Linked DNA regions of Homo sapiens: region 1 is linked to region 2. The links come from fine-mapping of genetic effects on gene expression. A gene starts in region 2. The other region holds a variant in brackets. All regions are shown on one strand. Distances are between the middles of the regions.

Region 1 (16,301 bases), 250 kb before region 2:
ATTCCTTATCTGTCTGTTTTTATTATATCCCTCTGTATACTGTAAACTCCTTGAGGGCAGGAACCATGTTTTATTTTTTTTTTGGAGACAGAGTTTTGCTCTTGTTGCCCAGGCTGGAGTACAGTGACGCAATCTCGGCTCACTGCAACCTCCGCCTCCCGGGTTCAAGCAATTCTCGTGCCTCAGCCTCCCAAGTAGCTGGAATTGCAGGCATACACCACCACATCTGGCTAATTTTGTATTTTTAGTACAGACAGGGTTTCACCACATTGGTCAGGCTGGTCTCAAACTCCTGACATCAGGCCATCCGCCCGCCTTGGCCTCCCAAAGTGCTGAGATTACAGACGCGAGCCATCACGCCCAGCTGGAACCATGTTTTACGCACTTTTGTAGTCCCTGAAGTAAGGCCTTTACAAGCCTTATCTTGCTTAATCATCACAACCACCCTCATGGTAGGTACCATGTCGTTACTATTATGCAAGTAAGTAAATTGAGGCAGAGAGTTAAAGAAACTTGTTCAGAGTTATAAAAAAAAATCAGGATTTTAAAATTTTATTTTTTTCAAGATGAAGTTTCACTCTTATTGCCCAGGCTAAAGTGCTGTAGCTTGATCTCGGCTCACTGAAACCTCCGCCTCCTGGGTTCAAGCGATTCTCCTGCCTTAGCTTGCGGAGTATCTGGGATTACAGGTACCCGCCACCAGGCCTGGCTAATTTTTGTATTTTTAGTAGAGACGGGGGTTTCACCATGTTGGCCAGGCTGGTCTCGAACTTTTTTTTTTTTTTTTTTGAGACGGAGTCTCGCTGTCGCCCAGGCTGGAGTGCAGTGGCGCGATCTCAGCTCATTGCAAGCTTCGCCTCCTGGGTTCAGGCCATTCTCCTGCCTCAGCCTCCCGAGTAGCTGGGACTACAGGCGCCTGCAACCACGCCCGGCTAATTTTTTGTATCTTTAGTAGAGACGGGGTTTCACCGTGTTAGCCAGGATGGTCTCAATCTCCTGACCTCGTAGTGAGGAGCTGAGACTGTAGTGAGCCATGATTACACCACTGCATTCCAGCATTCCAGCCTGGGGGACAGAGACCCTGTATCAAAAAAAAAAAAAAAAAAAAAAAAGGCCAGGTGCGGTGGCTCATGCCTGTAATCCCAGCACTTTGGGAGGTTGAGGCGGGTGGATCACTCGAGGTCAGGAGTTCAAGACCAGCCTGGCCAACATGGCAAAACCCCGTCTCTACTAAAAATACAAAAATTAGCCGGGCATGGTGGTGCATGGCTATAGTCCCAGCTACTTGGTAGGCTGAGGCACGAGAATCGCTTGAACACAAAAGGTGGAGGTTGCAGTGAGCTGAGATCACACCACTGCACTCCAGCTTGGGCAACAGAGCAAGACCTTGCCTCAAAAACAAAACAAAACAAAACAAAAAACAAAAACAAAAAACCACAGCCAGGCGCGGTGGCTCACATCTGTAATCCTAGCACTTTGGGAGGCTGAGGCAGGTGGATCACCTGAGGTCAGGAGTTCAAGACCAGCCAGGGCAACATGGCGAAACCCCGTCTCTACTAAAAGTACAAAAATTAGCCAGGTGTGGTGGCAGTCACCTGTAATCCCAGCTACTCAGGTGGCTGAGGCAGGAGAATAGCTTGAACCCAGGAGGCAGAGGTTGCAGTGAGTTGAGATCTCACTACTGCACTCCAGCCTGGGCGACAAGAGTGAGACTCTGTCTTAAAAAGAAAAAAAAACCAACAGGCCAGGAGCAGTGGCTCAAGCCTGCAATCCCAGCACTTTGGGAGGCTGAGGTGGGTGGATCACTTGAGGTGAGGAGTTCAAGACTGGCCTGGCCAACATGGTGATACACCATCTCTACCAAAAATACAAAAATTAGCAGGGCATGGTGGCACATGCCTGTAATCCCAGCTACTCCGTAGGGTGAGGCAGAATCACTTGAACCCAGAGGTGGAGGTTCCAGTGAGCCAAGATCACACCACTACACTCCAGTGACGAAGTGAGACTCTGTCTCAGAAAAAAAAAAAAAAAAAAGCAACTATTATTAATTAATTACTTGTCCCTATTCCTCTGTATAGCTAGACCACCACTGCTGTAAGTTTAACACTGTAATATGATTTCTTCATGTGTAGGTCACCACTACAATGTAATCTCCTTGAAAGAGGCAGCCACATACAATTTACCTTGTATTTTAGCACAATGCCAGGCATATTGTGGACACTTATTAAGTAACTGCACTGTTTAAATACTACCCACCTTTCAAGGCCCAGTTAAATGTCCATTTCCACCACTTATGTTTACCTAATGAGTCCAGTCAGATTTTCTCTTCTCAGAATTCTACTACTTGACTAACCATATGCTATCTTGCATTATATGTAGAAGTGTCTCAATTAGGTTACATGTTCCTCTAGAGCAGAGATGACCTCTTACACTGTTTATCTGGCCAAAAACAGCTTATTTTTCCAACTGCAAAGCGAGTATTCAGCAGTCACTTGGGACTTAAAATATTGCAGCCCAACCACGGGAGGTCCCACTTTATCTTTACTAGTGAAGTCATCTGTCTTTAATAAAATTCAGCTAACAGCTTATCTCCTGACTCTCCTTCCCTTAGCTTAGCTACTGGAACTCTGCTTAGAACTATAAATCTGCCTGTATTTGTGTGCTGCTGTCATATCTCAGGTTCCCCAGGATGGAAGAGATCTTTCTTTTTAATCTCCCTCAAGACCCAGTAGAGGGCATTATACAGACGAGGGCTGCTTGTGTGGGTGCTGTTGGCTCACTGTGGATATATCCTCAATGGCAACTCTCCAAGTTATTTTTCTTTGCCTGTCTTTGATATGCCCAGCCCACACCAGCTTAAAATAAAAGCTGTTGGACAGTAACGGTGACTTCATCCCTGCCACCCTGTATATTAGATGGCTCAGCTTAGTGGCTTGTCAGCACAATCAGGTTGGAGGAGTGGAAGAACCTTTGATTCAACTCTTTGGGATAAAGACTTTAGAATACATCTAGCTAAAATAATGAGCAGGAATAACTATTAGAAGCATTGCAGAATCAGTTTGCTTTGCTTGCCTAGCCCTACAGTATGGGAGTGAAGGAGATGGACTGTCAAGTTTTAAAATGGGATACATCCTGCCAAGTGTGCAGTGGTGAAGAACTAAAAGGAAAAAAAAAAGGCTAAGGAGTAACATGAAATACAGATAGCCCCAAACATTTTTGGCACCCCAGGCTTCTTAAGGCCACAAATTAAAATTGAGGACCAGGGAAGCCAGGAATAGTGGGAAGAAATAATATAAAAGCCTAAGATACTAACTCAAGCTCTTCAGCTAACTAGCTTTTCTACTTTACAAGTAACTTATCTCTATACCTTAATTTCCTCACTTGTATTAAAATGAAATTGCACTAACTGCTGGGTGTAGTGGTTCACACCTGTAATCCCTGCACTTTGGGAGGCTGAGGTGGAAAGACTGCTTGAGGCCAGGAGTTCAGGAGCAGCCTACACAACAAAACGAGATCCTCTCTACAAAAGAAAGGATGAAAATATATTCTCAGCCAGGCGCAGTGGCTTATGCCTGTAATCCCAGCACTTTGGGAGGCTGAGATGGGAAGAGTGCTTAAGCCTGTGTTCTGAGACTCACCTGGACAACATGGTGAATCCTCATCTCTACAAAAAATAATTAGCCAGGTGTGGTGGTGTGTGCTTGTAGTCCCAGCTACTTGGGAGGCTGAGATGGGAAGATTACTTGAGCCCAGGAGGTTGAGGCTACAGTGAGTGTTTGCACCCTGCACTCCATTCTGGGTGACTGAGCAAGATCCTGCCTCTAAAAAAAAAAAAAAAAAGAAAGAAAGAAAGAAATTGAATGATCCCACATTCAGCCTCATAGACCTCACCTCATTCCCCAGCTGGCAAACACAAACCAGGGATAACATACTCAGGAGGAAATCATGGGATGGCTCACTAACCCCACCACAATAAACACCATTAACTTGTGTCTCTAGTTTAAATTTGTACTTGTTTTATTTTATTCATTTATTTTTTTTAGATGGAGTCTCGCTCTGTCGCCCAGGCTGGAGTGCAATGGCACAATCTCGGCTCACTGCAAACTCTGCCTCCTGGGTTCAAGCGATTCTCCTACCTCAGCCTCCCAAGTAAGTGGGATTATAGGCATGTGCCGCCACGCCCGGCTAATTTTTGTATTTTTAGTAGAGATGGGGTTTCACCATGTTGGCTAGGCTGGTCTCAAACTCCTGACCTCAAGTGATCCACCCACCTTGGCCTCCCAAAGTGCTGGAATTATAGGCGTGAGCCACCGTACACCCGCTGGAGTTTTTTCTCCTTTGGTAACCTTTCTTTTGTACGTTACATTCACAGGCAGCTTTTAACTTCTTTCAGTAGCAGGTTTCCAGCAATGCAGATTGGCACATCATGAGGAAAGAAATCACTCTGCCTCCTGCTGGCCACCAGCAGAAAGACTTGAGTTTCTTTTGGCTTATTACAAAGAAATAATATATTTCTTTTGGTTTGTCACATTTCTCCCTCACAAACATGGGAACTTGAAAAGGAATGGAAGACAGAGGGAAAAGGAGACTGGGCCTCCTTTTCTGCTAAACCTGGACTAGGCTTAGGTGTCAAGAAACCATTTAGATCAAATATCTTAAATGCCTCATTTTGTGAGCCACAAACTGAGGTTGATGCACCTTCTACATTGGTTACAGAAACAAAGGGATGGGCAAGGTTTATGCCAACATTCCTGCTCCCTTTCCTAAGTGATGGTATTGGGGAACTCAGCCGCATCTCACATTAACAATGTCTTCAGTATTGTTTTCTTCCCCCTCCCAAACCCCAATAAAACACACCAACTGCTTCAGAATATTTCTGGGTTGGGTTTTTTCATGGGTTTTTGTTTTGTTTATTTCGAATACTGAAAAAGTCCTTTGGGCTCTGTGGGGTTCCCCACGCTCACGGCTCCTTTCTCCCACACTCACTGCCCTTCTTCCCACAGCAAATCTATTTCAAGGACAGTACTTTTTAAAATGATTAATGTTGAGTTCTCAACTAGCTCTGCAGAACTAGAGGAGCTGTTTGCATCTGTCTGTGCGGATGGAGTTTCTTTTATCTGACACCAGGTCTCCAACCACACTGAAACAAGGCATTTATCTACAGAGCTCAACTAGAACCCCTTTTCATTAGGCTACTCCACTTCCTTCCCCTCATACCTACCCCACATCAGCCACGTGGTTAAGAAGGATAGTCAGGAATGTTTTTACCAACTCCAAGCCCTAATTCATACTCCTCCATATCTCCCACCCCACCCTTTCAACCCCACCCCCACCCCCAGAATTTCATTGATATTTCTCCCAACTGTTATTTGGAAAAAAGGTAAAACAAAAAAGGTTCAAGGTCTTGGTGCTCAGCCCAAGGGGCTCCATGTGCTGGGACACCAACAGGAAAGGGCTTCTGCCTCTCCAGCCCACACCCGAGCCACCTCCTGACCCCTGGCTGCAAAAGCAGGAAGGGGCAGGAGCCAGCACAGGACCCGGGTGGGGCAGGGAGGGGAAGCGTCTCAGGATCTGGCAGAGCCCCGGGCAGCATCATTCAACTTGGCCACTGCGGACGAACACAGAAGAAAAAAAAAAAAAACAACACTGTCAAGTAATAGGGGAAAAAAACCCTGAACTCCAACCCAGTCTCTACCCCATGATTCCTCCACATTTAACAACCATTAGGCTACCTGGCATGTCTCAATCCTATCCATAAGGGAGTTGCAAAAAAAATCAAAAAATAGAATTTCAGTCTTTTCCTATCCACGAAACAACGTTATCTGCCTTTCTGGGATATCCATGGATAACAAACATAGAAAAATAATTCTTTAGATAAGATCAAAATAACTGGAGGTTTCCAGGTGGGTAAGCTGCCTGGCTCAGAGCAGGCTGTTTCAGAGGCATGGCCACAGCTACTTGCAAAGACTGAGGTAGCACAGAGATGAGGTGGTGACTGTGTGGAGGCCAGAACCAGACCACACACATGCTGTTCTGAATGGATTTAATAATCTAGGTTTAATCAAAGCAATTTGCATTTGGATTTTGGAATGACCACTCCTTGCTAAGGAAGCTATGTACTTCATGCTGTGGAAACTGGCAAATACAGAATGTAGCTTGTTTGTTTTCTTAGCCTTGAAGATGACCAGGTAGAGAGACAGAGTGAGACCAACAGTTTTTCTGATTTCCCTGCTCCTCCTATTCCTTCCTAAAAATCAGACTCATTGTGACCAGTAGTCTTGAGGACTCAAGCTGAATGATAGAGAAGGCAGCTCAGACAGAAAAGAAAAAAAGTACAGAATTTGAGAAGATCGGAGATGAAGAAAACGTACAAAATTATATATATATTTATATATATAATAACATGACATATCTATGTACAACATGGCTGGGACAGTTGAAGAAACTATACAATGGTGTTCAGCATTTTCCCCTTCCCAGATGGACTTTAAGGATGACAGCATGAGGAAATGGAGCAAGAAACACAAAAATTATATACAATTACAAGTGACAGTCAAGGAGTTTGGGGACCAGGGAGTCCAGGGATCCTGCTCTCTCCATTCCTTCCTCACCAACTTTCTCCTATCCAATTTGAATGACAGCCTGAACACTGAATGGCCAGTCAGGAGAAAGGCATATACACACCTCATCCCCCCACATGCACATCAGCAAGTCTATCAGTCATTCTCATTGGGCCAAATGTTTGGCATATCAGAATTTGTGATGTGAGAGGGCAAGAGGATTACAGAATCTTGCTCTCTTGAGCATTAGTTCTCACCCTGGTCCTCTCTGTCATAACTAGCAAGTTGCGTTCAATAAAATTCTAGCCAAGCTGGTGGTAACTAGATTGAAGATGCTGGTCACCTGCAACCCCTTTCCTCCACCTGTTCATGAGTCAGCATGGCTACCTCTCCTCATGATAAAAGAGCTGGGTTGCTGAGTTCTGGGGATG[CAG/C]AGATTTCTCAGTCTTCCTCCTCTCCCTCCCTAACCACTTTCCCCAGCTTCCTCCAAGGTGAATCATCTTCTAAGAACCTGTTCCTCCAGCCCTGCAGGAGTACTCAGCCCCAGGGGCTAGCTCAGTTTACCCTTCTTCCTCTTTCCCTAACAATATACCTGGCATCAGACTGCATCTGAAACATGGGTCAACACATGTGCATGACTGAGCATGTTTCCTCAGGCCTGCAGCTCCGCTGCCAGAGAAGCTTTTTAGCAGCTAAGGCCCAGAGGTAGGCTGGGAAAGTGGGCTGGGTCAGAGGCAAGAAGCTTCCATGGCTAGCTTCCTAAGTATTTTTTTTTGACCCTCAAGACTGTGATATCTATAAGGTTCTCTTGCCTGAATTTATAATCCCCAAACCTCAATTTACTCTCTCCTCATGTATCCCTCAAATGGTTCCCCTCTGTAGTACTTTCCCAGTATTACAGAGCAGAGGTTCACCACCCACGAGCCTTCCTCACTTTTAGTTTTACAATGAACAGTATGGAGTTTTTCTGCTGGCAGTTAAGACTTCAGAATCAGAATCAATCTTACATACATTTAACTCTATTTTACAGATGAGGAAATAGAAATCCAGAGAGGCTAAATGACTTAATCAAGGTTATACAACAGCTCTGCTGGGACTGAGTAGAGTGAGAACCCAGATATCTTGACTCCTAAACCAGTGCTCGTCCCACTATCCCATGATACTTTCAAAAGCAACATGCTGGAAGAGAGAGAGAAGGTGCCCATTTTCTGTGAATAATGTTCATCAATCTTTATATTATTTGAGAGCCAGAGCAAACTGTAAGAGATACTAAGTAATGGAGGCTAAGGGGGCACTGTAGTTTTAGGCAAGCAAGTCAATTTTTCTTTTTAAGGATTCTCTAAACCTGCCATAATGGAAACATGAAGCAATAGCAGCCTAAGGGACAGAACACTTAGAAGCACAGAAAACATGTCTCATTCAATCTACCTTTCCCAACTACGTTAGGTTAGCCTTGGGATGTTAAACCTGCCAAACTATTCCCAAGGCTCAGCCTAATCAATTTTGGGACATTCTCTCCCAAAAGGAGAAATCACATCTCTCCAGTTTCTCACACAAAAAAAGCATTTGCAGCATTATCCAATCCTAGCCTTTCCTATTTCTGGGCCCTACCTGGACTACAGGGAGTGTGTGGAAGTGTCAATCTAACGAAATAAATAAACTTAGAGCCCCTTTTCAACCTACATTACCTTCTCAGCAGCCCCCAGCAGAATCACAGTCATTTCTGGCTAGCAAGCTGAGAAGATCTGACTAGGTGCCCATTTCATCCCTGCCTATAATATATAAACGTCCAGTGGTTGAGGAAGGGGAGGAGAGGGGGGCTCAGGTTACCCCGCAAGCTTGCTGGTGACGAGCGAGGACTTTCTCTGGGGCAGATCCTGTGGGGTGGGGATGTGATCACCAGTCACCAGGTTCTTGTCTGGTCCTGCACTTGGCAGCTGCTTATTCTTCATCTTGGCTTTGGCCATGTTGTAGTCTCCTGAGTCAAAGTACTTTTGCTAAGAGATAAGAGGGAGGTTTAGGTGAGTGAGGACTCTGGCCTTCCTCAAAAACAAGGAGACTCACATCTCACATCCATTATAAACCCTCATGCACACTCGGATCTTTCAAGAAGTCTTCCTTGATTAACCTCATGCATACACAGTTTAACATTAATTACATGTACTTATGTCTTCTCCCCAGTGTGTTCTGACTTTTTCAGGTACATAAGCAATTTCCCAGCTAGAGTATATAGTTTTGGAGTCAAGGGATAGCCCCTGCCATCCTTTGTACTCCACTCAGTAGAGGATCGTTCCACCAAAATCACTTATTCATAAAGGGTAACTGAGGACCTTACTGGGTACAGGGCAATAGCCTGGAACTGGAGAAACAGAAATGAATAAGATATAGAGAAGGATAAATATGGGGCTATCCTAGCCACCAGGAGATCAACCACAAGCCAACAACCTCAAAATGATTATTCTCCCAGACCAGGAATAGAAACTGGGCCTGTTCATGAGGATAATGTATTTTCCTTCTGACTCTCACAGCTCCCACACATGTTCCATGACTGTGACAGCCTGCCCACGCCTGCCTTGCCTCCAGCAAGGTAAATGCAAATCAGCATCACATTATCATCTGTGACTAAGACTCAATAACTGGGATCCTCCACAGGGATGTTTCACCCACCATTTCATCCGCACAGAGAAGCACACTCCAATGTAATGATTTATAATCCTACAGTCATTGCAGAGGAGAGTAAGGAAAATAAAAAAATTTTTTTTTGAGATGGAGCCTCGCTATGTTGCCCAGGCTGGAGTGCAGTGGCACGATCTCGGCTCACTGCAAGCTCCGCCTCCCGGGTTCACGCCATTCTCCTGCTTCAGCCTCCCGAGTAGCTGGGACTACAGGCGCCCGCCACCACACCCGGCTAAGTGTTTGTATTATTAATAGAGACGGGGTTTCACTATGGTCTCGATCTCCTGACCTCGTGCTCCGCCCGCCTCGGCCTCCCAAAGTGCTGGGATTACAGGCGTGAGCCACTGCGCCTGGCCAAATTTTTTTTTTAAAAAACGATAATATAATCCCTCAGTCAGCTTTAGGTACCTTTGGGAACTAAAAATCTGATCAGGAGCTACATGGCTATGAAAGTAGACTCTCTCTTGGTAAGGAGGACCACTCTGAACAAGAAAAATACATTTGCTGCAGGAGTATAATTAATGGCTGGTGCTCACTTCAAGGGTATGAAGAAACTGATTCATTTCAAGTTGAGGATTTATTTCTGTAGGAGAGATGGTTTGATCTTCTTCTGAAATGATGCATCCCAAAATTTATCTCTAATGCTTAAAAAGTGCACAATCCTAAAACCTCCAACATTCAAACAGGCAAATGCCTGGGGGCAGTCTGCATTTCAGTTTCTAACATCTTTCCCTCATTTCCCCACACACCCAAATGCTCCAATTTAGGCCTTAATTTCCTACATGGGAAATCAGGAGGGAATTGATACCACATCAGGGATTTACATTAATTTGACTTGCTCTTTTCAAATTTCAAATTCGCCTCTACTTCTGTTCAACAACAAAACCTCCAGAAAAGGATCCAGTAGAACCTCTACAGACTTCATTCGAAGAACCTCCTTTAGCTCCAAAGAAAGAGGGTAAGAGACTATGCCCCATACCCCTTTCTGGAGTCTCTTCATGAGGAAGTCGGAGCCTCCAGGCTTTTGTCCTAGGCTTGGGTATTTGGCCTTTAGCTTTGCCTCTTCAGCTCTCTCAGGCAGAATACCTTCTTTCTCCTGCGTGTCCTGGAGAAAACAAATGAGCCAAATAAAATTAAAGACTGAGAAACAACAGCTTCTCACATCTGATAACAACTATACTATCAACTTCTCCTGGAAATCCACCCACTTGTAAATACGCTATCTCTACTCTGCTGTTAAAGCTAGACCTTTGTTAAAATCCCTAAAGCTCAAGATGACTATTGTGAGAGAAAAAGACAAGCTGCTTCTCACACTTCACCCAAGGAACCAGCCAGGGACCTGTGCGTATTGGGCTAAAGGTAATACTAAACACAATACTTTAATCACAGAGTGGGCCATATCACTCAGCACAAATGCTAAGAAAGACAAAGAGAAAAAAGCAGGGCTTCTGGTGATAGAGGATGAGTAGCAGGGTTCCCTAGGCTATCCTACATGTCACATGAGAAATTAAAAAAAAAATAGTTTGGGGCTGGGAGCAGTGACTCATGCCTGTAATCCCAGCACTTTGGGAGGCTGAGGCAGGTGCATCACTTGAGCTCATGAATTCACTACCCGCCTGGGCAATATGTTGAAACCCCGTCTCTACAACAACAAAAAATAGTTTGCTAAATGTTTCCTCCTTATTTTTTTCTTTCTTTTTTAAAATTGCTACACGACAAAGCAGTTCCTTCTTTATTCAAGGTCTAAGCCACCTGTTAGGTCTCCCTGTGGAGGCGGCTAGCTATGTGGCCTTCTCCAAAGATCTCCACCTGAGTAATGGCACAGCCTTGCTTCAACATTTCCACAAATATTATGGTAGCAAGCTGATAAACAGAGAGGAAAATGATACTGTTTTTAACCTCAGGAAAACAAAGATACAGTAGGCTCACTAGTATTTACCCACCAGTTTTCATCAAAAAAATCAATACCTACCCTGGTGGTGCAGGGACTCTCACTACTGTAGTCAATCTCTTTTTTTTTTTTTTGTGGTCCCTGCTGCCCTTTAGTGACTTTTTGAAAAGATATGAAGTCAACGTATGACTCTTTTTAGTGGAATTATATTCCTTTCTCTTGGAAATTACGCATAGATATAACACCAAGTGTATTTAATGAGTACCTGAACCCAGTACTAAATTTTAAAAGTCAAATACAAACCCCAATAAGGGGTTTATTTGGCGTTAGTGTTTCCATCACGGAATCGCAGGTGCACTAAGTCCCTGCCTTGGAAGTCTAGGGGAAGAGAGAAGTGTCTTTCTCACGACCCTGTCGGCGTCTTTTCCAAGTTTAATTACCATGATTCTGTTTGGAACTCTAGCCCTCTTCAATATTGCTGGGTCCTCACTGAAGGTGAGCAATAGACCATCCTTAGCTACTAAAATAGGTCTCTTGAGAAAGTTGCCGCCTTAAACTAGCCATTATAATAACTACACTTCTCCCCTCCCCCAATACTGGTTTTTTTTTAAACGTCTTTACCTCGACCCCTATCTTTGCGGATTGAGGCTGCGGGCCCCAGCCCGGTTGCTGGGTCACTTACCTCTACAAACCAATAACACACATCACACCCAAGACCACCAGCCATCCCCTTTCCATTCACCGTCTTTCCAACCACCCGCCCCACGTCCATGCTCGGCCAATTATAGCACAGCGTCCAAGGTTTGAGCGGTAGGCCTATTGGCCAATCAGGAAGAGTACAGTACTGAGTGACAAACGACCCAACTAACCAGCGCCAAAGCAGCATGTCGTGTTGAAGCTCACCCAGCGTGACGCAAAAAGTGGCCAACCCCTGCGGAGCCTGAGACCATGGCGACCAATCCGCACTGGTGGGAGACCGTCTCCCGCCCCATCACGGTCTCCCCAGCTCGCCCGCCCGCACCCCTTCCACTTCACCTGCTTCTCCTCGCCGGTCTCCTCCGCAGGGTTCTCTTCTTCTTGTTTCTGGGACATGGCGGGACCGGGACTGTGGAGTGTAAGGGGCCCGGGAAGGCAACCGGAGAAGGGAAGGGGGAGGGGAAACGGGGACAACCTGCGCTGCTGCTTCGGCTCCTGTCACTAGGGTTGCTCAGTCAAAATGGCGGCCCTTGCCCGTGACGTTGCGACCGCCCCTTCCTATGAGAGCCAGTGGGAGTGAGGTAGATAGGGCAATGACGTAACGATCTACCAATAGTCGCCGTCTAAAGGTGGGCTCTATAGAGGCGACCGGCAAGCTGGAACACCAACCTGGAAAGAGAGTGAGCCACAAGGACCAATTGGAAGCCTGTGGGGGATATCGGGGGCGGGGCTGCTGGCTGTGGTACTTTTGCAGCTTTGGTGGGCTCCGGCTTCCTTCACTCCAGCCCACCGCGTCCGAGAGACTTAGCAGGGCGTCAAACTGGAGAGCGGAAGGATGGAACCTTTTATTCTCAGGTGGAGAGGATTAAGCTTTGCGGTGTTAGCAGAAAATGATCGAGCTCCAGAAAATGATTTGGAGGTCAGATTCGATTTTAAAGTAGTACTAACAGGCCGGGCGCGGTGCCTCACGCCTGTAATCCTAGCACTTTGGGAGGCCGAGGTGGGCGGATCACCTGAGGTTAGGAGTTCGAGACCAGCCTGACCAACATGGTGAAACCCCGTCTCTACTAAAAATACAAATATTAGCCGGGCGTGGTGGCGGGCGTTTGTAATCCCAATTACTTGGGAGGCTGAGGCAGGAGAATCGCTTGAACCCTGCAGGCGGAGGTTGCAGTGAGCCGAAATCGCGCCACTGCACTCCAGCCTGGGTGACAGGACGAGACTTTGTCGCGAAAAATAAAATAAAACGGTACCAATGGTATTACGATGTGTCACTTGGCCTGTGGAAGAGAGAGACTGAGTCTCAACCCGAGCTGTCTTGCAAAACACTAATGGCTTACGTTCCGTAGTTTCACTCTTATGTGTAGTTTTTATATTCCATCAGGGTGATCCCTTGGGGACTACGCTCCTTGAAACAAGGAGGACAGTGTAAGTATGTGGTAAACATTTGGTAAATACGGTTAATACTAGTTAACCTATCCAGAATTACAGTTTAACATTTCCTGGGCGTCTGTCTGTATGTGGATGGTACTGTGTTAGTTGGGGGGGGTACGTGTATAGTAAGGCAGTCTCTGCCCTTAGAAAGCTTACAGGCCTGGCTGGGCGCGGTGACTCACGCCTGTAATGCCAGCACTCTGGGAGGCGTAGGCGGGCGAATCACTTGAGGTCAGGAGTTCGAAACCAGCCTGGCCAACATGGTGAAACCCTGTCTCTACTAGAAATACAAAACAAGGCTGGGCACGGTGGCCCACGCATGTAATCCCAGCACCTTGGGAGGCCGATGAGGGTGGATCATGATGTCAGGCGATAGAAACCATCCTGGTCAACATGGAGAAACCCCGTCTCTACTAAAAATACAAAAATTAGCCAGGCGTGGTGGCGTGCACCTGTAGTCCCAGCTACTCAGGAGCCTGAGGCAGGAGAATCGCTTTTACCTGGGAGGCGGAGGTTGCAGTGAACCGAGATCGCATCTCGCCACTGAACTCCAGCCTGGGTGACAGTGAGAGTCCGTCTCAAAAAAAAAAAAAAAAAAAGAGTGGCAGATAAGAAGTGCTCTTTATGGAGATAATTTGGTGGTAATGAATAAAAAGACTCAGAATTCCAAGCAGAAAACTACCAGAGATGAACAGTCTAGCCGAGTCCTCTGCAAACGTTAGGTGGGAGATAATTAGGATTTAACCTAGAAACGTAGTAGTTAAGAATAGAAAATAGTGAACCTAACCAAGAGAGTCTGTGACAATGGAATCCACTAGACTAGCAGCTGACTGAATAGAGAATGAGAAGACTGTGTGCCTCAAGGTGATTATTTATAGAAACAATAAATTCAAGAAGAGGAGTCAATTTGGGAATGGAGCTGAAAAGCAGAGAGAAAATAAGGCATTCAGTTTTGAAAACATGGACTTTTTTTTTTTTTTTTTTTTTTTTTTGAGACGGAGTCTCGCTCTGTCACCCAGGCTGTAGTGCAGTAGCACAATCTCAGTTCCCTACAACCTCTGCCTCGCGGGTTAAAGTGATTCTCCTGCCTCAGCCTCCCGACTACAGGTGTGCGCCACCATGCCCGGCTGATTTTTGTATTTTTAGTAGAGACAGGGTTTCGCCATGTTGGCCAGGCTGGTCTCAAACTCCTGAACTCAGGTGACCTGCCTGCCTCGGCCTCCCAAATGCTGGGATTACGGGCGTGAACCACCGTGCCCGGCCTGAAAACATGGACTTTATTAAAAGCGAATGAACCATTTGGTGGAGACATCCAGGCAATGAAGACTTAGGATAAATGACCTCTAAGATCTCCATATCTGAAATTTAAGGGTTCTAGGAAATGTAAGTGTGGGAGTTTGGGAGAAAAGTAGACGCTGAAGATGTACAAATTTTGGACTTTTTCACATAAATGTAAGTAAAGTTGTGGAAGTTGATGGGATCACAAAGGAGAATGTAGGAAAAAAAGAGGTTCCAGTCAGGTGCGGTGGCTTACACCTGTAATCCCAACACTTTGAATGGTCAAGGTGAGAGGATCGCCTGAAGCCAGGAGTTTGAGGTTACAGTGAGCTATGATCATGCCATTGCACTCCAGCCTAGGCAACAGAGTGAACCCGTCTCTTAAAAAAAAAAAAAAAAAAAAAACTCCCAAGACAGAAACGTGGGGAAAAGTTGGCAAAAGACATACAAATGATCAGAGTGGTAGGGAGAGAATTAGAAGAGAGAAGAGCCATGGAAAGCAAATGAAGAAAGGGAGGGCAGGTTGTCAATGTTAAATGTGATACAGAAATTAAAGATGGAGGTGATAGAGGTCAATCGCAAGACGTTAAGGAGCGAGGAGGTGGTACCAATATTGAACAGTGGTAGCAATATTTAACAGTAAAGCAAGGAAAGGGCAGAGCTGTAGCAGCAGATTTTCTTTTGGGGAATAGGCAAGACTCAAGCATGTTTTTAGAAAAGGCGAATGAGGCTGGATGTGGTGGCTCACGCCTGTAACCCCAGCACTTTGGGATTCATCTAAAAGATGAATAATTCTTTTGGGAAATACTTTCTGATCAAGCTATTTCTAATTCCAAGCTCTGCTTAAGAATAATGTGTAAAAACTATGATTGCTAAAGGAACGATTGATTTAAATTATACATTTGTCCTTTTTTTTGAGACTGAGTTTAATTCTTGTTGCCCAGGCTGGAGTGCAATGATGTGATATCTCGGCTCACTGCAACCTCCCCCTCCCAGGTTCAAGTGATTCTCCTGCCTCAGCTGTGGGGAAAAGAAAGAGAGATCAGACTGTTACTGTGTCTGTGTAGAAAGAAGTAGATATAAGAGACTCCATTTTGTTCATCTTGTGAGTCGATGGCGCACGATTGCGGTGTTTCTGTCTCCGTGGAGGTGCTTTTCTTTGCATCTCCGATGGGTTCATTGTAGAACTTCAAATGTCTAGTGGGTATCCAAACAGGAAGCTGATTTTCTCCTGGTGAAACACAAGCAAAACCTCTCCCCCATGTTACCACCTTCCCTATTTCCCATGTCTTATTTTTATTATCTTTCTACCAAATCAGTTTTCCTTCATGTGGGCTGTTCTTTTTACCAGTAAGATGTTGTTCTGCAGAAGTAGTAGTCTGATTTCTATAAATGTTTAAAAAATATAAAGTGCTAGATTAAGTTGCATCTGAGGCGTGGTACATTCCTTACTGTCTCCCCCTTCTTTTTATTTAACTAATTGAGTTTTGAGTGTTCTATTAGTTCTTTCAACTATGGCCTGTCCTTGGGAATTATAAGGAATTCCTGTTGTATGTGAAATTTTCCACTGACTTAAGAATTTTTGGAAAGCTTTACTACAGTATCCTGCCCCATTGTCAGTTTTAATTTTTTCTGGAACTCTCATTACAGCAAAACAAGGTAATAAATGTTTTTTAACATGGGAAGTACTTTCTCCTGTCTGGCAGGTTGCCCATATGAAATGTGAATAAGTATCAACTGTTACATGAACATATAATAATCTTCCA
Region 2 (16,301 bases):
CACCACCTCAGCCTCCCAAGTAGTTGGGACTATAGGCATCCACCACCACATCTAGCTAATTTTTTTATATATATTTTTGTGGAGACAAGGTCTCCCTATATTGCTCAGGCTGGTCTCCAACTCCTGGGCTTAAACAATCCTCTCACCCTGGCCTCTCAAAGTGCTGAGATTACAGGTATGAGCCACCACACTCAGCCTGGAAACTACTGTTCTAGCTCCTTTTTTTAGCACCTTGCACTTGGTTCTCCAACCAAGCAATGCCTTGCCCCCAGGCTGCCTAATGTGGTATTTCACCCTTTTCATCTACAAAAAAGACAATACTCCACCTACCTCCTTCTCAAAAGATATCCATTGTACTATATTTCAGTAGGAAGGTGACTCTAAGTCACAATGGAAAAAATCATAACTTGGAGATTAAGAATGATGACTGTGTAGATGGACTGCCAACAATAAAATTCTGTCTCTAACTTCTAGTAGCTATGTGACTTCAGACAAGTTACTTATTCACTCTCTGTGCCTTAGTTTCCTCATCTGTAAAACAAGAATAATAATACTTACCTAATACGATTGTTATAAAAATTAAATGAGAACAGCTGGTAAGTATTACTAATAAATATTAGATATTATTATAGTTAGTACAAATTCATGATGTCAATGGCTTAATTAGTTTTATCCCTTCAAAGGTATTTCATATTAACAGTGGGTTTTACATTCATTTTTATTCCACAAACATACATTGAACTCTAATCCAACATACTAGGCACCCACTGTAAGCACTGCAATGCTCTGGTAAACAAGGAAAGCAAAAGTTCTGCTCTCATGGAACTTATATCCTAAGTATGCTGGTTTTGTTGTGTTTTTTGAGACAGGGTCTCACTCTGTCTCCTAGTCACCCAGACAGGAATGCAGTGGCACAATCATGGCTCACTGCAGCCTCAACCTCCCAGGCTCAGGTCATCCTCGCATCTCAGTCTCCCACGTAGCTGGGACTACAGGGAATGCTACCACACCCTGCTAATTTTTTGTATTTTTTTGTACAGATGGGGTTTCACCACGTTGCCCAGGCTGGTCTCAAACTTTTGGGCTCAAGCAATCCACCTACATCAGCCTCCCAAAGTGCTAGGATTACAGGTATGAGCCACCATGTCCAGCCCTAAGTATACTGTTGAATCCATAAACTTACTTGTCCATTCAACTACAATGAAAACGTGGAGGGAAAATATAAAATGGGCCTCAGAGGGTGGCTCACACCTGTAACCCCGGCACTCTGGGAGGCCGAGGCAGGAGGATTGCTTGAGCCCAGGAGTTTGAGACCAGCCGGGGCAATATAGTGAGACCCGGTCACTATCTAAAATAATAAAAACTTTAAAACAAGAAAATACATTGACGAAATTATGAAAAGTGACATAAATTTGAAGAGTTTATGTGAAAAGTTGGAGACAGTTGCTACAGACTAGACATAAAGATTAGCAACAAAATAGGAAAGTGCAGCCTGGCATATAGAAGGAACTTAATTATCCACTCCTTTCCCTGGGTTTGTCTCCTTAAGTGTAAAATGATAGGTGTTGTCATATTTCCAACCTGAAGATTCACTGATGTCTACTTACTAAAGTCATTATGGCATATTAGGCAGTCGTGGTTTTTTTTTTTTTTTTTTTTTTTTTAGACGGAGTCTCACTCTGTCGCCCAGGCTAGAGTGCAGTGGTACGATCTCAGCTCACTGCAACCACCACCTTCCAGGTTCAAGCGATTCTCCCGCCTCAGCCTCCCGAGTAGCTGGGATTACAGGCACCTGCCACCATGCCTGGCTAATTTTTGTATTTTTAGTAGAGACAGGGTTTCTCCATGTTGGCCAGGCTGGTCTTGAACTCCTGACCTCAGGTGATCTGCCCACTTCGGCCTCCCAAAATGCTAGGATTACAGGCATGAGCCACCATGCCCGGCCAAGGCAGCATTCTTAAAAACAGATGGCGGCGGAGCATGGCGGCTCACGCCTGTAATCCCAGCACTTTGGGAGGCCAAGGTGGGCGGATCACCTGAGGTGAGGAGTTCAAGACCAGCCTGGCCAACATGGAGAAACCCTGTCTCTATTAAAAATAAAAAATTAGCCGGCGTGATGGCAGGTGCCTGTAATCCCAGCTACTCGGGAGGCTGAGGCGGGAGAATAGCTTGAACCCAGGAGGCGGAGGTTGCAGTGAGCCAAGATCACGCCATTGCACTCCAGCCTGGGCGACACAGTAAGACCCTGTCTCAAAAAAAAAAAAAAAAAAAAAAAAAGGCCTTTGCAATATAATAAAATACTATCTCTTTTTTTGTTGGGGGACAGGGTCTCACTCCAACACCCAGGCTGGAGTACAGTGGCATGATCACAGCTCACTGCAGCTTCAACTTTCCAGGCTCAGGTGATACTCCCATCTCAGCCTCCCAAGTAGCTGGGACTATAGAAGTGCACCACAGTGCCCGGAAAATTTTTTGTATTTTTTGTAGTAAAGGGGTTTCGTCACGTTGTCCGGGCTGGTCTCAAATTCCTGGGCTCAAGCAATCGGCCTGCCTCGGCCTCCCAAAGGGATTAGAGGCACGAGCCACCACACCTGGCCATAAAAGAATATCTTGACATCTTAACTTTACATTGCATGAATTCCTATTTTCCCATATCTGAAAAAGGTAAATAAAGGTAACAGGTAAGAATTGTGTTAATTGACGCAGTTAAAACTAAGTTATATAGGTGAAAATTAGCTAAAAAAAATTTTCTTCCTAAATGACAGCCTTACAAACCCAAACGGTATTACCCTTTTCCTTCTACATTCTTCATCCACAGTAACTTGTACATAATAGCACAAAAAGAATTCTCTGCTAATGAGAATACCAGAATCAAGAGAGATAAAAACCTACACTTACTACAAACTCATTCAACATCTCTAGTTTGAATTTGGAATTGTAAATCAAATACCTAATCTCCTCCCAACTGTTCCCTCAGCCAATGCATTACAAATGACACATTCAATTTAAAAAGTGTTCCACCTTGGCTGGGCATGGTGGTCATGCCTATAATCCCAGCTCTTGGGGAGTGCCCAACGCAGGAAGATCACTTGAGGCCAGGAGTTAAAGACCAGCCTGGGCAACATAGCAAGACCCTGTCTCTAAAAAAAATTTAAAATTAGCCAGCCACGGTGGTGCACACCTGTGGTCCCACCTACTCAGGAGGCTGAAGTGGGAGGATCACATGCTCCCAGAAGGTCAAGGCTGCAGTGAGCCATGATTGTGTCACTGCACTCCAGCCTCAGTGACAGAGCAAGACCCTCTCCTATGGGGAAAAAAAATGTGTTCCTCAAAACTTGTCTAGTCCGGGCCGGGCACGGTGACTCAAGCCTGTAATCCCAGCACTTTGGGAGGCCGAGGCAGGCGGATCACAAGGTCAGGAGATCGAGACCACCCTGGCTAACAGGGTGAAACCCTGTCTCTACTAAAAATACAAAAAAAAAAATTAGCCGGGCGTGGTGGCGGGTACCTGTAGTCCCAGCTACTCGGGAGGCTGAGGCAGGAGAATGGCGTGAACCTGGGAGGCGGAGCTTGCAGTGAGCCAAGATAGCACCACTGCACTCCAGCCTGGGCGACAGAGTGAGACTCTGTCTCAAAACAAACAAACAAACAAAAAAAAAACAAAACAAAACTTGTCTAGTCCATAGATAAGAAACAGCCTAAAGTTTCATGGACCACCTACCCACCGAGTTCTACTTGCCAGTGATAAGTAGAACTAGTGAAAAATGATAGAATATGAAGAATTATCAATTCGAGAAAAAAAATCATCACAGAACTATTACTTCAACACAACTCTTAGAGAGTACCAACCATATTTTACTCTTCTTCTAATGCAGCACCACAGTGAAAAATGCAGAAGAACGTGGTCCCCTTGAAAAACACTGCAGGGCCACCAGCACAATTAACATGTTCAAGCACTATTACTAACCCTAAGGATTAACTTGGCCGGGTCAGTGGCTCACACCTATAATCCCAGCAGTTTAGGAGGCTAAGGTGGGAGGATTGCTTGAGGACAGGAGTTCAAGATCAGCCTGGGCAACATAGCAAGATCCCATTTCTACAAAAAGTTAAAAAATGTATCCAGGTGTGGTGGTGTGTGTCTGTAGACCCAGATACTCAGGAGGCTGAGGTGGGAAGATCACTTGAGCTCAGGAGTTCAAGGCTACAGTGAGCTGTGATTACACCATTGCACTACAGTCTGGGAGACAGAGCAAGAACCTGTCTGAAAAATAAAAATAAGTATTATTTTTAAAAAGGATTAACTGAAGTGAAGGTTAAAGAGTGAAATATTTTTTAAAATCTTGACAAAACTAACAAGAATTGTAAAAAAAAAAAAAAAAAAAAAAAAATTAGTACTCCAGCAAAAATACAAAGTAGAAAAAACTCAAAGAAATAGGCATGGTGTCCCTAGTCCTTAAAATGGCTCTAAGGAAAGAAGGTATGACAGTGTAGCAAAGAATTCTGACCTGAAAACATTTACTTTCACTAAGCACAGTACATTTCCACCTATGTCCCTCCATTCATTAATCTCATTTCCCAAAAAGCAACAGGCTACTGAAAAAATCCACAATGTATCTCTGATCTCTTCCTCATGATATACAAGAGCAAAGGGAGAAAAGAAAAAAGAAAATATATCTTCTGATTTGATTGAACTGAACATGGGATCAATAAGTCAGAAGAGATGGAATAATTTTTCAACATCAAAAAAGAAATCTGGTCAAAGTGTCTCACATCTGTATTCCCAACTTGGAGAGACTGAGGCAAGGCTTGCTTGAGACCAGGAGATCAAGATCAGCATGGGCAACATAGCAAGGCATCTGTCTCTACAAAAAAATTTAAAAATTAACCGCGCATGGTGGCAAGGCACCTGTAGTCCCAGCTATTCGGGAGGCTGATCGTGAGAGGATCACTTGAGCCCCTGAGGTGGAGGCTGCCGTGAGCAGTGATCTTGCCACTGCACTCCAGACTGGGCGACAGAGCAAGGAGCAAGACCCTGTAGCAAAAGAAAAAGAGGGGAGAGGGGACAGGAGAGAGGGGAGAGGAGAAAGGAAAACAAAGAAAAAGAAAAAGGAAATCTAAAAATTGCAGAAGCAAGCAGCCAAAGCATAGTAAACAAAGCTGTTTCATTAACAAGGATTCTGCACACACACATACACACTAACATATGCTATTTTCTGCTAAGATTTAAGCTGATATTGATCAGCTTATGAAAATATGGTCAAGAGGCTGTCATTCTGGTTGCTGTTGTTCAAAAAACAAAACAAAATAAAGCAACCCCACCCACACAGCTGGAAAAAAGCTTCTGACATATGAACTAAAACTTGTTTACCCAGGCCACTTCTTAATAAGAGAAATGCTTTGCAATTTAACTAGGGTTATATAAGTATTTTGCAATGTGTGATCAGTTAAAAATCTTGTTTATTTATTCCATAGTTCACAGATAGGTTATATTACTACAAGGTCAGGTTTGACATAACGGCATTTTTCCTGTTTTATAGTTTTATTCTATCACTCAGCACTTCCTGCAATGTAATTTTTGCGATTAATTTTACCTCCCTTTCCTTCAAAAAAAATTTAAAAGATTAAAAAAAAATGACGTGACAAATTAACCATTTCTTAAAATAGCTATTCCCAGAAACACGGTAGAAAAGAAATTTCAGTGATTCAACTGTCCTATCAAAATCTGGATATTGCAAAATCATACTGCCTTTCAGTAACATGAAAAAAAATCTAATTTAAATTTCAACGTGGGGATGGGGGTAATCACTCCTACTGTTTTATTTTCAAGAAATTCTCCGCCCCACGCAACACACACACATATCTCAAGGCCCTTTTTAAGGCTATCAAATATATTGGTTTTTGGAAAAGGATAGACTTTATTTGGCAAGAATAACCAAGGTCTCCAAGATAAACTAGACCCCTAAAATGAAATGCCTTCTAAAGAGGAATAACTGTAACATAGAGGAAAGAGGGCTGGGACTAGTAATTTGAAGATCTGATCTCTCTAGAACTGCACTACACCCTACTCCATCTCTTAGACAAAACAGACCAAACCTTTTTGATATTTGATTATTTTTTGAAATTGAGAAATGGTGTGGAATCAAACTTTTCTGAAAGAGTTTGGAAATTGCCTCGACGTAGGCCTAACAAGATTTAAACCTGGGGCTGTGGAACTAAAGACCTGTCCGGAACCATAACCATTACACAAACCCCTGCCCTCAGCAGGCAAAGACCTACAGGCCCTCTTAACACAAGATCTAAGTTTCAAAGTATAGTCCGGGGACGGAGACGGGGACGGGGGTTGCGGGTGGGAGGTAACAGCCTAAAGAAACGTCGTATATATCAAAGAATGTCCATTTTTTATTTTTTAAATTAAAATCTAAACCTTTAAATGTTTGGAAGCAACGCCTCAACTAAAGAGCAGTGTGGTCCAGGGTTTATGAATCCAAACTACTCTTAAAGTAAACCGAGACACTCTGCCTACAGTTTTCGGCATCAAGCGGCTCCAGCGGGCAGAGGGTTAAAAGAGGACCACATCACAGACCAGACGCCGACCGAGGAGTGAGGGCGGGCCAGCCCCGCACTGGCTGCCGCTCCAACGGAGGTCAGGACAGGGAGCCCCCCTCAACTCCCACCTGCCCCCTCGCTCCCTTGGGTATACTCGAGTCTACCCAAGTCCCCGGGATCGGGCCCCTCCCCAGGTCACCGCTCCCCCACCGTCTCTCGCGGCCCCCGCCCCGCCCCGGCGCCTTCAGCTCCAGCTGCGTCCCCTCAGCCCTGGGTCTCCTTAGTTGTCAGCCCCTTCGGCCCCTCCCCTTTAGAGGCGCCCCAGTCCTCCGTCTCCTCACCGGGGTTGGCAGTAGTCGCCGCCATGGCCGCAGATGCCACCGCCGCCGCGCCACCCCCCCCCCCAGTGGGAGGAGCCGCCGCCACCGAACCGGGAGGGAGGGGAAAAGAAAGGCCACTCCCCAGAAGCGGCGCCTGACCGCCGCCTCCGCTACCGCGGAATCCAAGATGGCGGCTTCAGCAGCCCCCAGCATCCCAGCCCCTGCGGCGGGGAGACCCCGCCTATATAGTAGGCGGAGTCAACACACGGCCAGCCTCCTAAGAAAAATTGACCAATGAAAATGCCAAATCGTCCAAGGGCAGGGCTACTCACTGCGCCAGCCAGTCCAGTGAAGGGAGGGCGAGGAAGAAGTCCAGCTGTCTCCCTAATCTCGCCCTCCTTGCGTAAGAGGTCAATGACCGAGTAACGTCATTGAAATGCAATTAAAATGGGTATTTTAGGCTGGGCGCGGTGGCTCGCGTCTGTAATCCCAGCACTTTGGGAGGCCGAGGCGGCCGGATCACCTGTGGCCAGGGGTTCGAAACCAGCCTGGCCAACATGGCGAAACCCCGTCTCTACTAAAAATACAAAATTAGCCGGGCGTGGTGGCGCATGCCTGTAATCCCAGCTTCTTGGGAGGCTGAGGCAGGAGAATCGCTTGAACCTGGGAGGCAGAGGTTGCAGTGAGCCGAGATAGCGCCACTGCACGCCAGTCTGGGCAACAAGAGCGAAACTCCGTCTCAAAAAAAAAAAAAAGGATATTTTACTAAAAACCTTCGCTTGGTGGTGGATTCGTCTGAGTGGTTGCCGTGCAGACAATGTATCTTGTAAATCCTCTTTAGGTGCTAAAGAGCACCTAAACATCACATGGTGATTTGTAATCCTTTCCAGTTTTTTTCCTCTTTTAAGGACTTTTGTCCCTGGTGAAAAAGTTAAATGACTAACTTTTGAATGCCTGCTATGGAACCGGTAGTCTAAAAGGATCCAGGTGTTAACGGTTTGGTATGGGAGATATTGCCAGCCAAAATTGGAGGCAATAGATGAAGAAAGTAATTTGAGAATGGGTAACTTCTTTGGTCAGTGACAGGGACAGAGTGAGGAGTTTTGTTTGTCTGTTTTTGAGACAGAGTCTCTCTCTGTCGCCCAGGCTGGAGTGCAGTGGCGCAATCTCGGCTCACTGCAACCTCCACCTCCCCGGTTCAAGCAATTCCCCTGCCTCAGTCTCCTGAGTAGCTGGGATTACAGGCGCACGCCACACGCCTGGCTAATGTTTTTTGTATTTTTAGTAGAGATGGAGTTTCACGACGTTGGCCAGGCTGGTCTCGAACTCCTGACATCAGGCAATCTGCCCGCCTCGGTCTCACAAACTGTTGGGATTACAGGCGTGAGCCACCACACCTGGCCAGTGAGGAGTTTTTAATAGGGAATCAATAAGATGATGGCTGTGCAGATTTATTTTCTTTTTTCTTTATTTTTTTCTGAGACGGAGTCTTGCTCCATCACCCAGGCTGGAGTGCAGTGGTGCGATCTTGGCTCACTGCAACCTCTCCCTCCCGGGTTCAAGCAGTTATCCTGCCTCAGCCTCCTGAGTAGCTGGGATTACAGGCGCGCACCACCACGCCCGGCTAATTTTTGTTTCCTGGTAATAGGAAGCATTGAGCTATTCGAGGTAGGCACTGTCCAAAATGCTTTATATGTATTTACTCATTTAATCCTCACAACAACGATGAGGTAGGTTCTACTGCTATTTCCATTTTGCAATTAAGGAAACAGAAACAAAGAGGGTAAGCAAGGGACATCCAGCAGGTAAGTAATGTGGGAGGCAAACTAAAGGAGTCTGACACTGGAAACCTGTTCCACCCATCCCCCTATTTTAGCACTACAATTTTAGCACTACAAAGTACTTCCATTTTCATGTATCGCTCACAAAATGTTTAATACAAATTTAATTAAAATTTTAACAAAAATCCCATTATGCTATTGAACAGCTTTGCATTCTTAGAAGTTGTATATGTACTGCGCAGATTACATTGATCCACTTATTTAGTTTACTGCAAAGGTATTTTAACATAATTTACATATTATTGTTTACATCTGTTAAAATTTCATTTTTCTTTCATTTTGTTGTTATATTTATAAGTCACCAAAAAGAAAAAAATCATCCACCCAAAAGAAATACATTGGCTGGGCTGGGCGGGGTGGCTGTAATCCCAGCACTTTGGGAGGCCAAGGAGGGCGGATCACAAAGTCAGGTGTTCGAGACCAGCCTGGCCAACATGGTGAAACCCCATCTTTACTAAAAATACAAAAATTAGCCGGGCATGGTGCCGCGTGCCTGTAATCCCAGCTACTCCGGTGGCTGAGGCAGGAGAATCGCTTGAACCTGGGAGGCAGAGGTTGCAGTGAACCGAGGTGCCCCTGCACTCCAGCCTGGGCGACAGAGCAAGACTCCATCTCAAAAAAAAAAAAAAAAAAATGCTGTAGCTTCTTTACCAAGTAAAATGGATTTTTCCAGAATAAATGCAAAATGTTTTCCTGTATGATGTGGATACATTTTGTGGTTAAAAGAGATCAAGTTACATTTCTGTAGAAAAAAATTGGTAGAAATCATTTTGTTATAGAGCTGCTTACACAACTAGCTACAAAGTTAATAACATATTCTGTTTGGAGACAGTGCAACAAAGCTGGCTGGGTGCAGTGGCTCACGCCTGTAATTCCAGCACTTTGGGAGGTCAAGGCAGGAGGATCATCTGAGATCAGAAGTTCAAGACCAGCCTGGCCAATATGGTGAAACCCCATCTCTACTAAAAATACAAAAATGAGCTGGGCGTGTTGGCACACGCCTGTAGTCCTAGCTACTCAGGAGGCTGAGGCAGGAGAGTCGCTTGAACCTGGAAGGTGGAGGTTGCAGTGAGCTGGGATCGATTGGGCCACTGCACTCCAGCCTGGGTGACAGAGCGAGACTCAATCTAAAAAAAAAAAAAAAAAAAAAAAAGTGTAACAAAGCTATTGGCAGAATTCTTTGTCAAATATCACATGGAGTCATGATACACAACATGAAATGGCAATATCTGCCCTGTACCTGCTACCAGATGTTTGTTTTAAGCGTAGAAACCACTGATATACACAATATGAATCCGCTTACAGCATATAGGCAATACATAAGGAGAAATGCCCAGAAACTTCCTGTCTGGTTTATCATTAAAAATTCAAGATACAAAAGAAAACATTTTTCATTTAGATAAGAATTATTTTGTGAGGTATGAGTCAGTCTGAAAAAGATATCTTGGGATCAAAACTGATGGAGTTACAGGCCAGGCATGGTGGCTCACGGCTGTAATCCCAGCACTTTGGGAGGCCAAGACAGGCGGATCACTTGGACCCAGGAGTTTGAGACCAGCCTGGTCAACATGGCGAAACCCCATCTCTACTAAAAATACGAAAATTAGTCTGGCATGGTGACACATGCCTGTAATCCCAGCTACTCGGGAGGCTGAAGCACGAGAATCACTTGAACCTGGGAGGCGGAGGTTGCAGTGAGCCGAGATCATGCCACTGCGCTCCAGCCTTGGTAACAGAGCAAGACTCTGTCGCAAAAAAAACACAAACAAACAAACAAACAAAAAAACACTGATGGAGTTATAACTTTGGATGCAGAAAGAACACTGTTCCTACAAAAAAGATGTCAGTCCACTTTCCTTTTTATTTCCTTTTTTTTTTTAGACAGAATCTCACTCTGTTGCTCAGGCTGGAGTGCAGTGCCATGATGGCTCACTGCAACCTCTGCCTCCCAAGTTCAAGCTATTCTCCTGCCTCTGCCTCCTCAGTAGCTGGAATTACAGGCGCCCGTCACCACTGCCCCGCTAATTTTTTTGTGCTTTTATTAGAGATGAGGTTTCACCATGTTGCCCAGGCTGGTCTCCAACTCCTGAGCTCAGACAATCCACCCACCTCGGCCTTCCAAAGTGCTGGGATTACAGGCATGAGCCGCCATGCCCAGCCCACTTTCCATTTTATTCAGAAAACAGTTCATAGCCAAAATATATTTCTCCCAGCCAGGCTCAATGGTGCATGCCTGTAGTCCTAGCTAATCTAGAGGCTGAGGAGGGACGATCACTTGAGCCCAGGAGTTTGAGGCCAACCTGGGAAACATAGCAAGGCCTCATTTCTAAAAAAAAAATTTCTCCTGATTTTGATTCGACATTGAACAAATTAGCACAAACCATAAATGTAGTAAAATATCATCCAGTGAGCACAATCTTTGAGAAGAAACAGATAAATTGGTGCTTTCTCCACAGTTAAGTATGGAGGCCAGTAAGGGGGGGAAATGCTGTCAGTTTTTAATAAGGATTGAAGTGAAAATCTCTTCTTTATGATATAGATAATACTAACATAAACCATTTTTATTATTTTAAGTAGGATTTAAGTAGGTTTCTCAAATGGTTCATCTGAGCAATATTTTCATTAACATGAACATATTACTTTAACTTCTAAATGTCATGGTTTGGAGTTTTGTTTTTGTTTTAGAGATAGAGTCTCACTCTTTCACCCAGGCTAGAGTGCAGTGGCACCATCATTGCTCACTGGAACCTCGAACTCCTGGCCTTAAGCCATTCTCCCACCTCAGCCTCCCAAAGCACAGGGATTATAGCCATAAGCCACCACACTCAGCCTGTTTTTGCTTTTTAGTTCATGCCTTTTATTAACCCATCTCGTCTTCTGGTTTGTTGAAACAGTAAGTCAGACAACATTTGCCACAATAATGTCTTTCAAAGTGGCTGGCCATAAAAACTCCAGCACCACACTCACCTGAAGGGCACTCACAACAAAGGCAACTAGTTTTGCCATTCTTGTCCACCTTGTAATATTTTAGGACCGTTAGCTTAACCTTCTTTCTCTTATGCGTATTCTTCTTGGGAGTGGTGTAATACTTCTTCCTTGGCACCACCACAAAGTCTCAGCACAATAAGAAGAGTGGACTCCTTTTGAATGCTGTCATCAAAGTACATCCATCTTCCAATTGCTTACCAGCAAAGATCACTCTGCTGATGAGTAGGAATTCCTTTCTTATCCTGCCAGGACTTTACATTTTGTATTGTATTAGAGAGTTCAACCAATGAACCCCAACAAATAAGAGAGTGATGTCTTCCCCATTACAAAAATCTGCATCTTGGTAGCAGTTCTCCTGCAGATGGTGGATCACAAAGCAAACATTTTTAATGTTAAGAACAAAGTATCAGGATTTTGTAAGAAAAGCAGACTATGATGCAAATGCCTTGACTGCCAAGAGTATTTTATTTCCCAACACATGATAATTTTCTTTCTTCATCAGAGGAAAAAAATGAATGACACATTATTGAACATATTCTAAACCACATCCAAATGTTGCAACCAAATGGGGGTAAATGCTTCCCAGAGCTGAATGCAGCCAATGCAACTGAATACAACTCCTGCCCTCTCTCAAGTTGAAGCATTTGACTTTTGAGGTTACTCTTTGCTCTTCTGCTTAGAATCTGACAAACCACTGAATGCTTTCACTAGAAATTCTCCAATAGATCCTTGTAAGCTCCAACTATTCAGAATTATCTGGTAGCCATCAAACATTTCTTGCCATATCTGACAAACTCACTGTAAATACAGATTTTCTAATTTTAGTAGAAATAAAAATTAACAGATCAGATCAGGATGCCAGTTGGCAAATTTTAAAAAATTAAGAAATCTGTTGACTGTGAAGCCTGATCTACATGTTTTTATACACATTTTCAGCTTATCAATATTTAACCATTACTAATACTATTACTATTATGTTTATATTAATTTGTAAATTAATAGAAAATTACAGTTTTTTTCTGTTAACTCTTATGGTAAACTGGTTTTTTTAATTATTTAGAATGGTAGTTTTTAAATTGTTTTTTGTTTTTGTTTGTTTTTTAAGACCAGTCAAGTGAAGGAACAAAGAAATCTGTAACTGATTGGGATCAATTAGTTGTAAACACCAAGGCACTCAGACCAGCCTCCAAAGTTTTATTAAGTGTCTCTGGGTATGGTTGCCAGATTTAGCAAATAAAAATAAAGCTAAGCCAGTTTGATCTGAATGCTGGATAAACAACAAATAATTTTTTTTTTTAAATGGAGTTTTGCTTTTTTTGCCCAGACTGGAGTGCAATGGCATGATCTTGGCTCACTGCAACCTCCGCCTCCCTGGTTCAAGCGATTCTCCTGCCTCAGCCACCCGAGTAGCTGGGATTACAGGCACCCGCCACCACGCCCAACTAATTATTGTATTTTTAGTAGAGACGGGGTTTCACAGAGGCTGGTCTCAAACTCCTGACCTCAGGTGATCCACCCACCTCGGCCTCCCAAAGTGCTGGGATTACAGGCGTGAGCCACGACGCCCAGCCTACGAGCACATCTAAGGAATGGAAACCAGATTGCAAGTGGGTGAGAAGTGAGTAGAAACTAAGTAGACACAGTTAGTTAGCACAGATTATTTTTTCAAGAAACATGACAAAGAAGAGAAAAATAATCAAATGGTAGCTGCGGTAGGGGTTAGGCTAGGGGTGGAAATAGTAAAATATTTCTATAGACTGAGCTTGTGGAAAGGAGCAAACTAAAAATGCAAGAAACATCCAGGTGTGGTGGCTCATGCCTATAATCCCAGCACTTTGGGAGGCCAAGGTGGGTGAATCACCTGTGGTCAGGAGTTCGAAACTAGCCTGGCCAACATGGCAAAACCTCATCTCTACTAAAAATACAAAAACTAGCTAGGCGTGGTGTTACACACCTGTAATCCCGCCTACTCGGGAAGCTGAGGCATGAGAATCACTTGAGCCTGGGAGCTGGAAGTTGCAGTGAGCCCAGATCGCACCACTGCACTCCAGCCTGAGTGACAGAGTAAGACTCTGTCTCAAAAAACAAAAAAATAAAAAAATGCAAGAAATATATATGCCTGAGAAAACAAGACTGGTTCTAGGGGAGAGAAGGAGACAGGGTTAGGGCAGCATGTGAAAGTGTTCTCAGAAAACCAAGATACCCTTTTTCTAAAAATGTGTAGACATTTTGAAGTGGAGGAAAGGGAACTCATGTGTGATGACTTTGAGTCTCAAAGAAAAGTAACAGGTGAAACTTCTGCTGGGAATAAGAGGTAGAAATGAGGGTGGGTGTAGCTGCACAGCTGTAAGCAATTGGTTGGGAAGTCAACTAGGTATGAACAAAACGACTGTGAATAATCTGCCACAGGAGTAGAAAAAGGAAACAAAAAAAGATCACCAAATGCTCTGGGGAGCTAGACAAAGTTAGAAAGCATAAATTTTCATGAAACTATGGAGCATTGTAATTTCTGTCAATACTCAGAAACCTGAGGAAAGAAAGTGAACAGTTTACCCACAATTGGAGAGATGATGAACTGATCAGTATCTTGAAGATGGAAGATTCTAGAATTGCAGAAGACCCTAGTTTAAAAATATCTGAAAGGGGATGAGACTGGTCTGGGAAGCAAATGAAGCCAGAAGTTATTGGACTGAGAAGAGAGGTTTAATTCTGGAAGCTGATGTTGATAGCAAATTCAAAAGTGAGAGAGTTGGAGTCAGAGGATAGGCACTGGGAACCACATGTATCACAAAAAAGTTATTAATAAGTAAAAAATGTGTAAAAATGTATCTGTGTGTACTTATGTTTGTAGATAGATATACATTTTCAAATCAATAAGTAAAAGGTTAATAGCTCAGTCAAAAGGGAAAAGGATAGGTAAGGTGAAGATAGGTTTGTATGTATCTGCAAAATATGTAAATCAATAGAGATTCAAATACTGTAGTAATTAGAGAAATGCAATCTTTAAAAAACTGAGATATTGGGCCAGGCGCAGTGGCTCACACCTGTAATCCCAGCACTTTGGGAGGCCGAGGCGGGCAGATCATGAGGTCAGGAGTTCGAGAAAAGCCTGACCAACATGGTGAAACCTCGTCTCTACTAAAAATACAAAAATTAGCCGGGCATGGTGGCGTGCGCCTGTAATCCCAGTTACTCAGGAAGCTGAGGCAGGAGAATCACTTGAACCCCAGAGGCGGAGGTTGCAGTGAGCCGAGATCACACCACTGCACTCCAGGCTGGGCGACAGAGCAAGACGCTGTGTCAAAAAATCAAAAACAAAACAAAACAAAACAAAAAAGATATTGTGGGGTTTTTTTGTTTTTGTTTTTGTTTTTGTTTTTCTTGAGATGGAGTCTCAATTTCTTGTTCTGTTGCCCAGGCTGGAGTGCAGTGGCTCGATCTCAGCTCACCGCAACCTCACCCTCCTGGGTTCAAGCAATTCTCCTTCCTCAGCAACCCAAGTAGCTGGGATTACAGGCGCACACCACCATGTCCGGCTAATTTTTTGTATTTTTAGTAGAGACAGGGTTTCACCATGTTGGTCAGGTTGGTCTCGAACTCCTGACCTCAGGTAATCCACCCGCCTCGGCCTCCCAAAGTGCTAGGATTACAGGCGTTAGCCACCGTTCCCAGCCTAAAAACTGAGATATTGTTTTTAACCAATTAGCTCAACAAATATTTCAGAGACTCTGAGTAACTTACATTGGTGAAGCTATGAAAAAAAAGAAAAGGCACTTTCATGCCTATTTGATTGGAGTGTAAATTACTATAACCGTTTAGTGTGTAATTTGGTAATATCTATTAAAATTCCAAATGTGCATATCCTACAACCTAGCATGTATATTTTTAATATTTGGAGGAATTTATTCCACAAAAACATTTCCACAAGTGCCCAGAGAAATATATATACAAGGCTGTCACTCCAGCCTGGGTGACAGAGTGAGACTCTATCTCAAAAAAAAAAAAAAAAAAAAAAAAAAAAAATATATATATATATATATATATATGTATGTATATATATGTATGTGTATATATATGTATGTATGTATATATGTGTATGTATATATACACACACAAACACGGATATTTATTGCAATGTTGCTATAAGAAATTTGAAACAATACAAAAGCCCACCAACAGAGAAAATGGACTACTTGAGTACTCAGCAGCCATTAAAAAGAATAAAGCAGATTTTTTTTTTTTTTTTTTGATATGGAGTCTGGCTCCGTCGCCCAGGCTGGAGTGCAGTGGCACCATCTCGGCTCACTGCAACCTCTGCCTCCCAAGTAGCTGGGACCACAGGCGCACACCAACATACCTGGCCAATTTTTGTATTTTTAGTAGAGACGGGGTTTTGTAATGTTGGCCAGGCTGGTCTCTAACTCCCGACCTCAAGTGATCCACCTGCCTCAGCCTCCGAAAGTGCTGGGTTTACTGGCGTGAGCCACCATGCCTGGCCCGGTTATGACTTTTTTTTTTTTTTTTTTTTTTTTTTGTGAGATGGAGTCTGGCTCTGTCACCCAGGCGGGAATGCAGTGGCGCGATCTCGGCTCACTGCAAGCTCCGC

The links. PIP is the estimated chance that this variant, and not a neighbour inherited with it, causes the effect.
Region 1: its variant is fine-mapped to the expression of ARNT in whole blood (TOPMed, PIP above 0.99).

What each region holds. Positions count from the first base shown.
Region 1 is chr1:150,617,252-150,633,552 of GRCh38, forward strand. ENSA (endosulfine alpha) reads right to left here and starts at 12,361. Exons shown (of 4, transcript NM_004436.4): 1 at 12,163-12,361; 2 at 10,216-10,341; 3 at 8,391-8,557; 4 at 4,874-5,608. The coding sequence starts at 12,219. The coding sequence ends at 5,593. LOC112268239 (a long non-coding RNA gene) reads left to right here and starts at 12,568. Exons shown (of 2, transcript XR_007066603.1): 1 at 12,568-13,251. RefSeq lists a silencer at 5,402-5,696 and enhancers at 8,924-9,455, 12,076-12,345, 12,088-13,055, 13,056-14,025. The variant CAG/C (reference allele first, on the strand shown) is at 6,992.
Region 2 is chr1:150,869,656-150,885,956 of GRCh38, forward strand. ARNT (aryl hydrocarbon receptor nuclear translocator) reads right to left here and starts at 6,944. Exons shown (of 22, transcript NM_001668.4): 1 at 6,888-6,944. The coding sequence starts at 6,912. It also overlaps a transcript of LOC107985204 not described here and the pseudogene RPS27AP6. RefSeq lists enhancers at 4,508-5,009, 5,010-5,509, 14,603-14,747, silencers at 6,570-6,999, 7,003-7,276 and a cis regulatory region at 14,675.